Linked DNA regions of Homo sapiens. The protein of the gene in region 2 purifies or fractionates together with the protein of the main gene of each other region. This does not show direct contact. Each region holds a gene or a part of one and is shown on either strand. Other genes may lie near its edges.

What was found.
Region 1: the proteins of IL21R (region 2) and WSB2 purify together in Homo sapiens (affinity purification with western blotting; one study listed by BioGRID). This does not show direct contact.

Annotation. Positions count from the first base shown.
Region 1 is NC_000012.12:118,034,684-118,037,179, reverse strand, and holds part of WSB2 (WD repeat and SOCS box-containing protein 2), read left to right. Parts: intron 1-669; coding exon 670-842; intron 843-1,855; coding exon 1,856-1,966; intron 1,967-2,086; coding exon 2,087-2,194; intron 2,195-2,496. UniProt on the Homo sapiens protein: May be a substrate-recognition component of a SCF-like ECS (Elongin-Cullin-SOCS-box protein) E3 ubiquitin ligase complex which mediates the ubiquitination and subsequent proteasomal degradation of target proteins.
Region 2 is NC_000016.10:27,447,174-27,449,857, forward strand, and holds part of IL21R (interleukin-21 receptor isoform 1 precursor), read left to right. Parts: intron 1-495; exon of another isoform or gene 496-1,360; coding exon 1,361-2,110; 3' UTR 2,111-2,684. UniProt on the Homo sapiens protein: This is a receptor for interleukin-21.

The DNA of each region.
Region 1 (2,496 bases), on a different chromosome or scaffold from region 2:
GAGACAGTCTTACTCTTTCGCCCAAGCTGGAGTGCAGTGACGTGATCTCAGGTCACTGCAACCTCCACCTACCAGGCTCAAGTGATTCTTCTGCCTCAACCTCCCAAATAGCTGGGCTTACAGGCGTGCACCACCATGCCTGGCTAATTTTTGTATTTTCAGTAGAGATGGGGTTTTGCCATGTTGACCAAGCTGGTCTTGAACTCCTGGCCTCATGTGATCCACCCACCTCAGCCACCCAAAGTGCTGAGATTACAGGCATGAGCCATCGTGCCTGGCCGCTGACATTTATTTTTAAGTGGAATAAGATAGCACTTGGCTCAGGTCTTCATCAGCACATACGACTACCCTATTGGCAAACAGGACTCAGAAGCAGACTCAGAAGTCTCTGCACATGCGTTTCAGCAGGGGTCTTCCTAAGGCTGATCTGGTTTATTCTCTCTTATAGTGAGCTCCTTGAGCATGCCCATTGTTTTAAATCCTCAAGAATCCAGACCAGTTGCCTTATTTAAACCTACACCACACGTTCTGGAAGAGCTGTAGAAAAGGGATAGAGAATCAGCCCTGGCTGCAGGGCCTGCAGATTTGGTGGTGGTACCTTTCCCTCCCTCCGTTTGAGTCCTAAGCACTTTGCTTCTGCCCTAACCAGGCACTTCTTACTTTCCACAGGTCTTTCTATGGAGCATGAGGTCCTACACGTTAATTCGGAAGCTAGAGGGCCATCAAAGCAGTGTTGTCTCTTGTGACTTCTCCCCCGACTCTGCCCTGCTTGTCACGGCTTCTTACGATACCAATGTGATTATGTGGGACCCCTACACCGGCGAAAGGCTGAGGTCACTCCAGTAAGGACTGAATCCCTGCTATGACTTTTTTGTGGGGGGACTGATGAGGAACCTGCCTGGGATTAGACATGTCTCTTTTAGAATCTGGGACATGGGAGGGGACAAGCTGGATAAAAAGGCACAGTGGGTCTCTTTTGAGACGGAGTCTCGCTCTGTCACCCAGGCTGGAGTGCAGTGGCGCAATCTTGGATCACTGCAACCTCCACCTCCCGGGTTCAAGCGATTCTGCTGCCTGAGCCTCCCGAGTAGCTAGGACTACAAGCGTGCGCCACCAGGCCTGGCTAATTTTTGTATTTTTATTAGAGATGGGGTTTCACCATGTTGGCCAGGCTAGTCTCAAACTCCTGACCTCAGGTGATCCACCGCCTCAGTCTCCCAAACTGCTATTATAGGCATGAGCCACTGCGCCTGGCCTGGTTCATTGCTTCTTAGTGATGCCTTGTCAATTAAGCCCTCTCAAGTAGCTTTGAGTGTCTTCCAGTCTCCTGATTCAGGTGGCTGTGTGTACTTCTTCGGAATCAGCATTATGAAGCCTCAATATGACTCTTTATTTCCATTTACTAATAACTGTAGTAACAAGTTCAGAAAGAGCCTCTTATCGAAACTGTGCTTTCCAAAATGAGTTTCATGTTCTCACAAACTTGGTCTCCTTTTTCCTTTTGTGTCTGTTGTTTTATGAAGCAAATAATAGGCAGTCCTATAATTATCATGTATCTTAGCCTAAAAAAGACTTGCAGTTTCTACTGTGGCATTAAAGTGAGGGCTGACCTACTTTGCATAAGCAAATTAGCACAAGGAAGTGTTAGTAACCCTTCATCCACAGGACACCTGGAGCCTTCTGAGATACCCTTTTTTTTCCCAGTGTGCAAATCCCAAGCTTTTCCACGAGGGGCACACAATGCATCTTGAGCCCTTTTGTAGCCAGGGCAGTTTGGCTTCCTGCCTAGGGTGATGATGGAGGGTGGAGAGCAGCCATCACTCCAGGCCTGCCATCCTGTTTCTTTCCTTCCCAGCCACACCCAGGTTGACCCCGCCATGGATGACAGTGACGTCCACATTAGCTCACTGAGATCTGTGTGCTTCTCTCCAGAAGGCTTGTACCTTGCCACGGTGGCAGATGACAGGTAACGAAGAGAACTCTCTTTACATGGCCTCAGAACAAGTGCTTGCAAGTAATGGCAGCAAGGCCCTCTTGGTCTGGCCCTGGGTCAGCTAATATCCAGATGTTCTCTCTCCCCATCCAGACTCCTCAGGATCTGGGCCCTGGAACTGAAAACTCCCATTGCATTTGCTCCTATGACCAATGGGCTTTGCTGCACATTTTTTCCACATGGTGGAGTCATTGCCACAGGGTATGTATTTGTTAGCTGAACAGATGGGTGGTGCTTTCTGCTGAGTATACCATGGAGCTTTTTAAGGAAAGAAACCATCTAGAATTTTCTTGCCTATGAGGAAAGCTTTAAGGCAATTCAAGATTATATAAAACTCAAATGATCGATTTTGCTAATAACGGTGTCCCATTTTCTCTGAATATTTAACCTAAATGTAATTAAAGATCTGTAAGTCATGCCACCTAATGGGCCAAGTTCACAAGGGAGAATAAAATTGAGATGATGCATAATATATGGGAAACCATTTAGGGCTAAAAGACCAC
Region 2 (2,684 bases):
AAAGCTCAAATATCACATTGATTTTGGGTTGATTTTTACCAATACTCATATAGCACTTGCTATATACCAGGCAGTCCCCTAGGAGCATCACAAACAGTGACTCATTTAATCCTCACGACGGCCCTACGGGTGGGTGCTATTATTAGGTCCATTTTACAGATGAGGAAACTGAGGCACCGAGAGGGTAAGTAATTGGCTTAAGGGCACACAGCTGAGAAGCGACTTTGAATCAGTGGTGGTGGCCACATCACAGTTCTGAGATGAGTTTTTGAGGAAGATGAGCTCAAAACAGGGAGATACCCATTCCTGGGGATTTTCCTTGCCAATTGCATGAGGATTCTGGTGTCGTGAGTGGGAGTCCTGGCAGGGGAGGGAAGGGGAGGGTCCTTCAAGTTTAAGGGCCACCGCCTCAGCCAGCATCACCCACATCCTTTATCCTCAAAGTGTACAAAGGCCTTTCCAAGTGGCTTTTCATTGATCCACTCCACCCATTCATTTCGTTAATAAACATTTATTGAGCACCTACTTTGTGCTAGGCACTGGGGCTACAGCCATGGACAGAAGAGACAAGACTTATGTCCGGGGGCCAAGTGTCTGTCTGGTGGGGACACATAAACCAGGAGAGTGCTAGGTTTCAAGAAGCATCAAGGAGGCGGGAAAGCAGGAGATGGCTCAGGGGTACCTCAGACCTCAGGCCCTCCTGCCCCCATGTCTCCTTGACTCAGGAATCTTGGTCCCTGCCTGGACTATGGGGCCACCAGTTGTCTGACTGGTCACACTACTAAGGGTAGCAACTCCCTTCTACAAGTAGGGAAACTGAGGCCCAGAGTAGGAGGGGGATCCACTAGGGTGGGAGCACATTGTGGTCCTGATTCCTCTCTCTCTCTCTGTCTCTCGGTGTCTTTGTCTATCTTCATGTCTCTGTCTGTCTCTCTTGATGTCTCTTTGTCTTGTCTCTGTGTCTGTGTCTGTCTTTCTGTCTGTTTAAACCCTCACCTTGGCTGGGCACAGTGACTCACGCCTGTAATCCCAACACTTTGGGAGGCTGAGGCGGGTGGATCACCTGACGTCAGGAGTTCAAGATCAGTCTGGCCAACATGGTGAAACCACGTCTCTACTAAAAATACAAAAATTAGCCGGGTGTGGTGACAGGCGCCTGTAGTCCCAGCTACTTGGGAGGCTGAGGCAGGAGAATCACTTGATCCTGGGAGGCAGAGGTTGCAGTGAACCGAGATGGCACCACTGCATTCCAGCCTGGGCAGCAGAGCCAGACTGTCTCAAAAGAATAAAAGTAAAAGAAAAATAAACCCTCACCTTACCCTCATCCTGTGCTATGACTCTCTCTTTTTCTCTCTCACAGAAATGGGTGGGTGCACCCTTCACTGGCTCCAGCCTGGAGCTGGGACCCTGGAGCCCAGAGGTGCCCTCCACCCTGGAGGTGTACAGCTGCCACCCACCACGGAGCCCGGCCAAGAGGCTGCAGCTCACGGAGCTACAAGAACCAGCAGAGCTGGTGGAGTCTGACGGTGTGCCCAAGCCCAGCTTCTGGCCGACAGCCCAGAACTCGGGGGGCTCAGCTTACAGTGAGGAGAGGGATCGGCCATACGGCCTGGTGTCCATTGACACAGTGACTGTGCTAGATGCAGAGGGGCCATGCACCTGGCCCTGCAGCTGTGAGGATGACGGCTACCCAGCCCTGGACCTGGATGCTGGCCTGGAGCCCAGCCCAGGCCTAGAGGACCCACTCTTGGATGCAGGGACCACAGTCCTGTCCTGTGGCTGTGTCTCAGCTGGCAGCCCTGGGCTAGGAGGGCCCCTGGGAAGCCTCCTGGACAGACTAAAGCCACCCCTTGCAGATGGGGAGGACTGGGCTGGGGGACTGCCCTGGGGTGGCCGGTCACCTGGAGGGGTCTCAGAGAGTGAGGCGGGCTCACCCCTGGCCGGCCTGGATATGGACACGTTTGACAGTGGCTTTGTGGGCTCTGACTGCAGCAGCCCTGTGGAGTGTGACTTCACCAGCCCCGGGGACGAAGGACCCCCCCGGAGCTACCTCCGCCAGTGGGTGGTCATTCCTCCGCCACTTTCGAGCCCTGGACCCCAGGCCAGCTAATGAGGCTGACTGGATGTCCAGAGCTGGCCAGGCCACTGGGCCCTGAGCCAGAGACAAGGTCACCTGGGCTGTGATGTGAAGACACCTGCAGCCTTTGGTCTCCTGGATGGGCCTTTGAGCCTGATGTTTACAGTGTCTGTGTGTGTGTGTGCATATGTGTGTGTGTGCATATGCATGTGTGTGTGTGTGTGTGTCTTAGGTGCGCAGTGGCATGTCCACGTGTGTGTGTGATTGCACGTGCCTGTGGGCCTGGGATAATGCCCATGGTACTCCATGCATTCACCTGCCCTGTGCATGTCTGGACTCACGGAGCTCACCCATGTGCACAAGTGTGCACAGTAAACGTGTTTGTGGTCAACAGATGACAACAGCCGTCCTCCCTCCTAGGGTCTTGTGTTGCAAGTTGGTCCACAGCATCTCCGGGGCTTTGTGGGATCAGGGCATTGCCTGTGACTGAGGCGGAGCCCAGCCCTCCAGCGTCTGCCTCCAGGAGCTGCAAGAAGTCCATATTGTTCCTTATCACCTGCCAACAGGAAGCGAAAGGGGATGGAGTGAGCCCATGGTGACCTCGGGA